Linked DNA regions of Homo sapiens. The protein of the gene in region 2 interacts with the protein of the main gene of each other region in a pairwise test. Each region holds a gene or a part of one and is shown on either strand. Other genes may lie near its edges. The genes, in order: SNX12, ARL6IP1 and SNX4.

Evidence for each region.
Region 1: the proteins of ARL6IP1 (region 2) and SNX12 interact in binary tests that used the Homo sapiens proteins (3 or more experiments, as listed by UniProt).
Region 3: the proteins of ARL6IP1 (region 2) and SNX4 interact in binary tests that used the Homo sapiens proteins (3 or more experiments, as listed by UniProt).

What each region holds. Positions count from the first base shown.
Region 1 is NC_000023.11:71,066,673-71,070,422, forward strand, and holds the start of SNX12 (sorting nexin-12), read right to left. Parts: upstream 1,663-3,750; 5' UTR 1,635-1,662; coding exon 1,470-1,634; intron 396-1,469; exon of another isoform or gene 334-395; intron 1-333. UniProt on the Homo sapiens protein: May be involved in several stages of intracellular trafficking.
Region 2 is NC_000016.10:18,799,669-18,803,418, forward strand, and holds the start of ARL6IP1 (ADP-ribosylation factor-like protein 6-interacting protein 1), read right to left. Parts: upstream 1,882-3,750; 5' UTR 1,799-1,881; coding exon 1,763-1,798; intron 1,703-1,762; exon of another isoform or gene 1,531-1,702; intron 1-1,530. UniProt on the Homo sapiens protein: Positively regulates SLC1A1/EAAC1-mediated glutamate transport by increasing its affinity for glutamate in a PKC activity-dependent manner.
Region 3 is NC_000003.12:125,450,490-125,454,239, forward strand, and holds part of SNX4 (sorting nexin-4), read right to left. Parts: intron 3,467-3,750; coding exon 3,321-3,466; intron 931-3,320; coding exon 816-930; intron 1-815. UniProt on the Homo sapiens protein: Involved in the regulation of endocytosis and in several stages of intracellular trafficking. Plays a role in recycling endocytosed transferrin receptor and prevent its degradation.

The DNA.
Region 1 (3,750 bases), on a different chromosome or scaffold from region 2:
TGAATGTCTCCAAAACCCCACAGCAGACAGCCCTTATGCTGTACTAGTCATGCCCAAGCTCCCTCAGGTAACTAAGTTCTCCAGCACTGACAATTTCCTGCTTTTATCATATTCTGAAGGACCTAAATTCCATTCTCCCCCAAAGACATGATTTCACATAGTTCTTATATAGACAAGTGTTTCTCATGTTTTGCTATTCACTTTTCTTTCTTCAGTTTGGACTTTGCCAAACTTGGAATCTGGAAATCATAATTTCTCAATAAGATTTCAAAGCCCAAGTAGGAGACCACAATTTCTCATTCAATTCACTCCTTCAACAATGAAAGCACATACACTCTTTTAGTTCTTCAATGCTGTTTGAGCAGGATGCTGTCCACAGAGAATATTCTGGCCTTTTAGTCTGAGAAGAAAACATAAGGAAAACTAGAAAATGATTCTCAAACTGTTTTGCCTATAACCACTTCAAGTGGGCAAAAGATCCTGCAAACCAAGTACTCTATCTGCACATTCCATCCTTGCATTATGGGCTAAGCACTAGAGAGTAAAGTCCTCTATCATGCATGCTGGAAGAAGCCACTCCTGGGCAATTCTGAAATGTCATGTATTAAAGTAACTACAGACCAGGGTCAGAATCCAAAAGGGTAATCTAGGACAGAAAGGGCAAAAAGCCATTCATATACAAAGTACCTAAACGAGAGTCAATAAATACTGAAATAAACATTCTGGATACTTCAAATCTAAAGGATCCACATAGAATGAAAGCAGTGACTGACAAGGCACCAATCCCAGGGCCAGGCCAGGTTTCAAGGCGAGACAGCACGTAGTATCTGCGAAAACTTAAGCATAAAACATTTCTCTCCTTCAGATGCTGATCCGACACAAGTTAGGAAAGCGCTCGGTCTCAAGGAGACTCCCTTTCTTATTTCTGCTCCCACAAGCCTACTGTCTGCCTTTTCTGGAATCTACCTTCCCTTTAATTCAAGGCTTTGCTTTACTCCATTATCCCAGGGAGACCTCATTAGAAAGCAGCCGGCCTTCCTGCCCTCCCTCTTCAGACTTCTCACAACCTAGTTTAGTTATGGAGCTCAGCGATATATCGCCTTGGCTTTCCATCCCCCAGCCCTCTTCCATCCTCCCTCCCTTCCTTCAGTCGCTACAGCCGTGATTCCTATCTCCTTGAATTCCTCACTCTAATCTTTTTCCATCCACCCCACCCTATCCAGCCATGCTTCACTTCCTCATGGGTAGCTTTCCTGCATCCCCGTCCGATGTCTCCCTCAGGAGTTTTCTGCATCCTCCGGCCACAACTGAATCGGCAGACCTCGTTCCAAGCCTATTATACCCCTAACCCCCAAATGACCCCTAAGGCGTCTTCCCCGCCGTTAGTTGCCCCCGCGGTAGCCTCCCTCCCCCCTCCCGCTCGCGCCGCCCGGTCCTCCCTCAGCTGTCTCCCTCACCCCGTGACTCACCCGCATGCGAACCTCATAGGTGGTGAAGCGCGCGCGTCCCACGCCCACCGTCTGAGGATTAAAGATGTCGATCTCCAGGAAGTTACTTGGCGGCCCGTAAGCGTCGGTCAGGTCCTGCGGCTTCGAGTTAAGGCGCCGGGTATCAGCTACTGCCGTGTCCGACATCTTTCCGAAGGAGAGCCTGGGACCGGGGAAAGGGGGTGGGGGACAGAGGCCTGAGGCAGGAGCGCGCACGGCCCCTCCCGCTTGCAAAATAACTAGCCAACCCACAGGCGGCGGCGGCGCGCACGCGCGCCCACGCACGCACGCGCACGCCGCACGGGCCTGGGCCCCGGGCTCTGAATAGCGGCCGTGCTGACTGCTGCGCGCCCTGTAGAGTGGAGGCCATATTCAGGCTTCCGGGTGATGTTTGTGGCCACCCGGGAACCTGCATCCCCAATACGCAGTACCCAATACCCTGCCTAGCAGCACAGGCTGGCTCCGCCAATCGCGGCTCCTCAACCCAAGAAATTGTCTCGTACCGTGTATCAATCAACAGTGGGCACTGCCCCGTGAGCCAGGCTCCTACAGTGATAGGCCGAAGCCCAGTGACCTGAATAAGTCCTGGTTTTCCGCGAAAATAGAAGGGTGGTCTATGGAGGGTGGGGTTCCAACAATAGTACTGAGAACCTATAACGTAGCCGTCCCACCTGTGCCACTGATGGTTTCAGTTCACGCCACACACAATGGCGCACTCAGCACTACGTATGGCGCCAGGAAAGCAGCAAGCAACTAGGATGGGGTAAAGAAAGACATTTCTCTCTTACTTTTCAGGAAAATTGGGCATATCTTACTCCTTGTTGCCACACTCCAGGTGTACTCAATCTTACATTTATCAGCAAATTGAGGGTACTTATTTCATACCTTCTATTTCTACTCCGCAGAACTCCATACTTGGCACTGCTCTGAGGTTGCTTGCAACCCATAATGGAGATAGAATAAATGTTTACATGAGAATATCTATAGAAATATTAATATTTATATGACTAATTTACATATGCTCCACATTAAAGGGTAGACTGGGTGATGATTTCAGGTCATCCTTTCTCCACCTTTCCCCTGCCCTCCTCTACTCAAAAAATATTTCCCATATCACTGATGCCTGAAATTCTTTCAACAGAGTATGAGGCCCTACAATTTCACAATTGCTGTTTAATTCAATTTAACCAATATCCACTAAGCAAATACGTGCCAAGCACCATGCTAAACACTAAAATCCTGGAGTTAAATAAGAGTCCCTGCCCTCAAGGAGTTAACATTCTAGCAAGGGAGACAAGTAAACAAAACTAATATAATGCGACAAATACAAAATAAGTAAATGTTCAAAGCAGCACATAGGAAATGTATAACTGGAAAAATTAGGGGAGGTTCCCCTGGAGGAGGAAACATCTGAGTTTAACAGACATGAAAAGACATAAAGGACAAATAGGAGTGGAAATAGGGAAAGGTAATTTCTGGAATAAGAAACAGCATATGCAGGCCGGGCGCGGTGGCTCACACCTGTAATCCCAGCACTTTGGGAGGCCGAGGCAGGCAGATCACTTGAGGTCAAGAGTTCGAGATCAGCCTGGCCAACATGGTGAAACCCTGTCTCTATTAAAAATACAAAAATTAGCTGGGCATGGTGGCACACGCCTGTAATCCCAGCTACTCAGGAGGCTGAGGCAGGAGAATCGCTTGAACCCGGGAGGCAGAGGTTGCAGTGAGCTGAGATCATGCCACTGCACTCCATCCTGGGCAACAGAGCAAGACTCCATCAAAAAAAGAAAGAAAGAAAAGGAAAAGAAAAGAGAGAGAGAGAGAGAGCGAAAGAAAGAAAGAATACACAAAGTCCTTGCGATAAGAAACAGTGGAGCATTTTTAGGCATTTATCGCCAATTCAGACTGTGTGATGGAAGTGTTTAGAAAGGTAGACTGGCTAGGGATGGGCAGACAAAGGATGATCCGCTTATATTAAGTAAAGGATCTCTGACTTCATGATAGGTGATACAAAGCTTTCTGGTAGGTGATAGGGAGTCCCTGAAGGATCCTAAGCAGGAAAAATACATGATCAGATTTATGTTTTAGAAGAATTGTTTTGTAGACAACATGGAAGGTATATTTAAGTTGAATTATGAAGGTATTGACAATAAGACTCCGAATCAAGTGGTGATGGTGACAATGGAGAGGAGGGAAGAGATAGGAAAGAGATTGAAGAAATAAAATAGATACGACTTGTACGTGATTAGATATGGTGGTAGTA
Region 2 (3,750 bases):
GATGTTGACATTCATTGGACAATTAAGGAAAACTACTTTCACCAAATTAAGGTGGCATTTTACGGTCAATATACCTCCTCAATACAGTGTTTCTTACCACTCAGGATGTCATTTTGATTATACTTCAAATTTCTCTGACTCTGAACAGCCGAAAGTGGGCCTCTAGGATGAGCTAATGTGGCAAAAGCCCTTAAAGCTGGTTTTGGTAAAGGAAGAAAAATTTAGAATAAGAAACTCAAGTGTCTCTATGTTATCAGGCTGGATGCAGTGGATCACGCCTGTAAACCCAGCACTTGGCGGGTCGGGGGGGATTGCTTGAGCCCAGGAGATCGGGACCAGCCTGGGCTGAGACCTTGTCTCTTTGTAAAAGTCATTCACTGGAAATCATGCAAATGACAGAACAAGGCACTTAATCTTAACAAAGACGCTCGCTATCTGTGCCACGCTGAGCACTAGTGTGATCTCAATATTTCTGACTTTATATTCCATGCTTAATACTAGTGAAAGAGACTACTATGTGTGGGCACTCTGCTGAGCATTCATATTTATACTTCAATTAATCTTCCTAACAACCCTTAAAAAAAGGTGTTATTACTGTCCCCATTTTACCAAGGAGGAAACAGATACAGAGGTTAACTGATCTGCATCCAAGAAATCCACGACCAAAGGCGTTGCTTTCCTTAGAGTTATATTGCTCTGCTGGAAGGAGAGTTGGGAAGCAGGAGCTCTAGCCCAGGATTTGTCATTTCAACAGGGCTTGAGCTACTTCTCTGTGCTTCAATTAATCCTCTTAAAAAGATCCACGCTGAGAACTAACTATGCTAGAAGGAGCGTGTGTTTAAAGGAACAAACCATGCATTTCTAAAAGCAAATATAAAATCACGCACAATCAAAACTGCCCTGAAGTCACGTCATTGGCCAGCGTCTGGGGTCTTGGAAGTTCAAAAGCCCCTAAGTAAATTCTTTGGTTCCGTTTTTCATTGCTGGTATGTGACCTACAGTCACCAGGGAAGGGCAACTGAGAATATGCAAGGATATTTCTCTTGTTTTTTGCCCACAAGGTGCGCTTAAATTCATAACAAATAAAAATGTGTCCGCCTATGATACCATCTCACTGCAGTTCCTTCGGATCCCTGCTTATTACTCTAAAGCTGTTTCCAGTAGTCCTGTGACCCCACCCCCGCCAGACTTCCAAATTCCAGACAAACGCCAAGACATCCCATTGTCTGTTCAGCTGGACCCCGCTCCCGGTTCCCCACGGTGAGCTCGCAGCCTCCCTGTCGTTTTAAGTTGTACCAGCTCTAAGATAAATTCTGGGCAGTAGCCCTTTGACCCTCCACCCTTGTCCAAGTTTTAGGGGGAAAAGAAGGCAGGCACATCCAGGTTAAGATCAAAGACGGGGAAAGCCGAATACGGCTGGGGCCTGAGCCGCGAAAGCGCTGGACAGGCCCCAGGAGGCCTTCTGCCCCCACCCGCACCCCAGGCTAGTGTCGCAGCCCCTCTGCCTCCCACTTCCTCCTCGACTCCTACTCGCGGTGATGAATCACGCGCCCTCCTCGCCCCGTCGCGCACCGTCCCCAGGAAAGGTAAGGGTTCGACACCCAGGAGTCACCCAAGAAGCCCGAGGGCCAGGCATCGTCGCCTGCCCAGGGAGAGAAGGGCCGGGCCCGCGGCGGGTGACAGGGACGAGGCCGCGGTGTTTGAGCCCACGGACGTCTGGAGGCCTCGCTCGGCTCCCGGGGGACAGGCAGCCAGGACTCACCAGCAGGTTGGTGCTGCGATTATCTCCCTCCGCCATCGTCTCGGGGATGCAGTCTCTACAAGCGCAGGCCACCTCCCCAACGAGTCCTCCAACCGAAACCCGCACACCAACCACAACCCGAGGGAACGCCCCGCAGGCTGCTTATATGGGTCGGCCGCCCTTCCCGACGGCCCCCGCGACGCTCGCTCCTCATTGGACAGACCGAGCTTACGCCTCAAGGAAGCCGGGCCAACCGAAGCTCAGCGCATGGCTTGAAATCGAGGTCAAAGGAGACAGAGGCAGCGCCGGGCCGAGGGGGAGGGGACACGGAGTGCCCAATCAGCGCCCAGGGACTGCGCGACGCCCCGCCCAGCGCTGTGGGAAGCGGTTCAACCGCCTCTGCAGGGGGCGCTGTCCCTCAGTGGTTCTCCGGCTCTTGCCGCTGCGGTGGCTTTGGGTCCCTCTTCGTCTGGCTTTCGCAGCCGAGGAGACTCTCTGGAAAATGGGCTACTCGAAGAGAGATGCTCCGTTGCCTCAGGCGGAGGGCGGGGACGCCGGGCCTGCGACACTTCATCTTTTCCTGGCCCCGAGGTGGCTGGGATCCGTTCCACCTTCGGCCCAGTTCCCCAGCCAGGCCCCTGAGCCGTTTAGCCCGGATTTGCGACCCGTGAGGTTTTGAGGACAAGTGAAAAGAGCTCTTTGTGTGGATTTTGCTGCAATGTTTCTCTCCTACCCAGTAGGAATGAGGCCTTAGCTTGCGCGGAAAAACCCAGGCCTGGTTTGAGAACGTGTGAAAATGCACCGCCTTCTAAGTGGCTTTATTATACGTGGATGTTTAAGTTACTTAAACTACAAGCTCCCTCTCCAAAAGGATTCTTTTTTTTTTTTTCTTTTTTTTTGAGACGGAGTCTCGCTATGTTGCCCAGCCTGGAGTGCAGTGGCGCGATCTTGCTCACTGCAAGCTCTGCCTCCCGGGTTCACGCCATTGTCCTGCCTCAGCCTTCCAAGTAGCTGGGACTACAGGCGTCCGCCAACACGCCTGGCTAATTTTTTGTATTTTTAGTAGAGACGTAGTTTCACCGTGTTAGGATGGTCTCGATCTCCTGACCTCGTGATCCGCCCGCCTCGGCCTCCCAAAGTGCTAGGATTACAGGCGTGAGCCACCGCGCCCGGCCAGAATTGTTTGTTTGTTTGTTTGAGACGAAGGAGTCTCGCGCTCCGTGGCCCCGGCTGAAGTGCAGTGGCGCGATCTCTGCTCACTGTAACCTCCATCTCCCGGGTTCAAGTGATCCTGGCGCGTCAGCCTCCCGAGTAGCTGGAATTACAGACGCCCGTCACTACGCCCGGCTAATTTTTGTATTTTAATAGAGACGGGGTTTCGCTATTTTGGCCAGGGTGGTCTGGACCTCCTGACCTCAAGATATCCGCCCGCCTTAGCCTGCCAAAGTGCTGGGATTACAGGCGTGAGCTACCGCGCCCGGCCAAAAGGATAGTTCTTGACACGACCTTTCTTCCATTAGAGGTCAAGCTAAGAAAATATGTAAACCCTCTCACAAGCAGTAGAATTCCTAGGCAGTTTAGGAACTGTGTTGAGGCACTTGTACATCTTTTCTATCCAGGATTTCAAATGCAGTAACAAGTGCTTTGATCTTTTTTTTTTTTTTTTTTTTTTTTTTTTCTTTTTTTCTTGAGACACAGCCTGGCTCTGTTGCCCAGGCTGTAGTGCAGTAGCCACCGCGCCCGGCCGATTTTTCATCGTTTGATACAAACAGAATCATGCCAAATGTCCGGATCAGATGTTTGTTTCAGGTGAATTAACTATAGTTTTAACTTCCAACCTTTTATCTTTTTTACAGGTTTTAACTTCCAATCTCATGGTCATTTGTATTCGGCCATTGAATTTAAATTTATTTTTAAAATGTTCCTTAAGTAACCACCAGGTTCTTAAATGTTCAAGGAAGTCATAAATGTGAGAGAACATAGCTGCAGACCACATACTGCCCCTAAGA
Region 3 (3,750 bases), on a different chromosome or scaffold from region 2:
AATTCATCTTACCATGTAATTTACTGAGATAATGCATGTAAAAGTGCTTGATAAATTATGACAGGTGATACAAATCAAAGCACTGGTACTGGTAGTCACACTGGCAGATCTTAGGTTATAAAAAAGAGGTTAAGGAATGTTTCCTATTTTGTTCTTAAACCAACGTTTTAGAAAGTCTTCCATCATTGTCAAACATTTATTTTAACTAGAATAAGCTTCAATGTTTGTATCTTTCACTATGGATATCAGCAACACAAATGATTTACTTTATGAGGAAGCATATCATAACCAGGTCTTCACGAAATAATGTTCAAGCTATTTTCCAATCAAAGCATATACCTGGAATGGTATTTTACTGTCTGGTCCAAGAGTACCATATGATCTAAATAATCTTGGTATATATTCTCAAATACAAGTTATAAATGGAGATACAAATTTGGACTTTAGATGAGTGGAGACTCAGTAATGGGCATACTGGTTGTAACACCAGTAGAGGCTGGACATGGTGGCTCGCACCTGTAATTGCAGCACTTTGGGAGGCCGAGGCAGGAGGACTATATGAGGCCAGGAGTTCGAGACCAGCCTGGGCAACATAGCGAGACCCCCCCATATCTATTTTTTAAATATTTAAAATTTTAAAATAAAAAAACCAAAACAAAATAAAACAGAAATCCTACAAAATTAAAATAGAGAAATTGGTAAACATTCTACAAGAGAAGAATAAAAATGAAAAATTTTTTGGTCAGGTAATTTAAATACATGTATAAGCACTTCTGAATATACATATATCTTCACTGAAACAGGAAAAACCCTACCTTTTTGCACATACTGATCTGCATGACTGCATAGCTTATGAGGGCCTCCTTTAAGTCTCGGTTCTTTTGTTCTTTGAAGCGTTCAATATCAGCCCATGCGTTTTTCACAAATTCTCTGAAATAAAAGGTATAGCCATTATTATTATTTAAGTTAAATAAACTGTGTACTAAAAAGTTAACCAGTTCTCATTGGCGTTGGTTTTTAATTGCCTATGTAGAAGGAAGAGTTATTGCTTGTATAAGACAGTTTTTTTATTTTCCTAAAAATTATAGTTAGGGAAAAAGCAAACAGACAGTCATATATTCTTGTACCTTTTAATCTACTTTTTCTTTTTTTTTTGAGACAGAGTCTCACTCTGTTGCCCAGGCTGGAGTGTAGTGGCGTGATCTTGGCTCACTGCAGCCTCTGCATTCCGGGTTTGAGCAATTCTCCTGCCTTAGCCTCCTGAGTAGCTGGGATTACAGGCACACGCCACTACGCCCAACTAATTTTTGTATTTTTAGTAGAGACAGGGTTTCACCATGTTGGCCAGGCTGGGCTTGAACACCTGAGCTCAGGTGATCTGCCCACCTCAGCCTCCCAAACTGCTGGGATTACAGCGTGAGCCGCTGCACCTGGCCTAATAATCTAAGTTTTTGCCACAAGGATTCTACCTTTAAATTATTCCTATAAAATACACATAGATGACTCCTTAAGCCAGCTCACAAACCTAACAGGTGTCAGTCACAATGAAGTAAGTGCCTTCCAGGGGTCACTGGAAAATATACACTCTTTTGACAAGATGGATTATGAATCACGTTTAGCATTTTTTTTTTTTTGAGACCAAGTCTCGCTCTGTAGCCCAGGCTGGAGTGCAGAGGCGTGATCTTGGCTCACCACAACCTCCACATCCAGGGTTCTTGCCTCAGTCTCCAGAGTAGCTGGGATTACAGGCACACGCCACTGCACTCGGCTAATTTTTTGTATTTTTAGTAGAGACAAGGTTTCACCATGTTGGCCAGGCTGGTCTTGAACTTCCGACCTCAGGCAATCCACTCTCCTAGGCCTCCCAAAGTGCTAGGATTACAGGTGTGAGCCACCACGGCCAGCTGCATGTACTTGTTTTAAATCACAACCAAAGTTTAAAAACTTTTTTAGCCAGGCTTGGTAGCCGGTAGTCCCAGTGATTCGGGAGGCTGAGATGGGAGGATCACTTGAGCCCTGGACTTTGAGGTGGCAGCGAGCAACAATGGCACCACTGCACTCCGGCCTGGGCAGCAGGGTGAGACTCCGTCTCAAAAAAATGAAAAATAATAATAAAAATTAAAATCCCGAGAGGTATTTGTTTTTGGAGACAGAGTTTCACTCTGTCGCCCAGGCTAGAGTGCAGTGGCGTGATCTCCGCTCACTGCAAGCTCCACCTCCCAGGTTCACACCATTCTCCTGCCTCAGCCTCCCGAGTAGCTGGGACTGTAGGCGCCTGCCACCGCGCTCGGCTAATTTTTTTGGTTTTTAGTAGAGACAGGGTTTCAGCATGTTAGCCAGGATGGTCTCAAACTCCTGACCTCATGATCCACCCACCTCAGCCTCCCAAAGTGCTGGGATTACAGGCATGAGCTACCGCGCCCGGCCTGTCTTTTTTAATTCTATCTATTACTTTGCCATATTTGGTGCTAGTAGTTCTAAAAATGAACAAAACCACCTCAAAACCCAAAATACACTCTTGGTCTGCCTTGGTCTATTCACTGACTGTCAGATGAAAACAAAAATAAGAAAAATGAGTCAAACAGTGATAGTGGGTCTCTGAGAACTGAATTTCTAGAAATACTTATGTAACAATTACATGCTAAGCCCTATGTAAGGCACTGGGATGTGAATGTGGAAAAGATACAATCACTGACTTTGAAGGGCTTAAATTTAGCCAGGGATAGTCACACAGAACAATCAATCATCTAATACAAAACTGCCATACCATACTGGCATGAATTAAATGCCGTGATAGCCTGAGAAGGCTTCACAATGAAGTAACACTTCAGCTGGGTACTGAAGGAGGGGAGGGGAGAAGAAATGGTGGAGGGAAAGTACAAAGGGTAGAAATCAGGAATAGTGCAGGAAAATAATATTATGAAGTTGAAACTTTTATTTCTCTTTCCCCCACATTGAAACAACTGTTTCTATAACATTATTTTTGATAATTCAACTTTCTTTTATTTTTATTTATTTATTTATTTATTTATTTATTTCTGTAGAGACAGGGTCTTCCTACGTTGCCCAGGCTGGTCTCAAACTCCCAGGCTCAAGCAATCCTCCCACCTCAGCCTCCTAAAGTGTCAGGATTACAGGCGTGAGCCACCACACCCAGCGTGATAACTCAAATTTCTTAGGAATGCATTTTAAAGGAATAGGCTGTATTCAGGGATGCCAATGAAGCTGGGAATTGTTACCAAAATAAATAAATAAATAAATAAAATAATCTACCATATAGTCTACAAGCCTAGCTTACTTAAACATCGCAGCATCTTTACCTGCCTTCCAGATTTTTAGACTTTAGCTGTTGTTCTCCTTCATTTATTTGTTCTTCTAGCACCTTTATTCTGGCTTCTCTCTGCTCTGGAGTTTCTTGACCAAAGAGCTTGGTAGTCATTCCCTTCAAAGAGAATGTTCTCACAGTCTAAAAGGAAACAGAAACAGATGAATGGATAAACAAAATGCGGCATACACATACACATACAATGGAACATTATTCAGCCTTTAAAAGGAATCAAATCTGATATATGCTACAACATGGATAAACCTGCAGGACATTATGCTAAGTGAAATAAGACAGATACAAAAAGACAAATACTGTATGATTCCACTTATATGAGACACCAGTGTTTACACTGTATTAGGTATTAATAATCTAGAGATAATTTAAAGCAGGGGGTCCCCAACCCCAGAGCCACGGAGTGATAC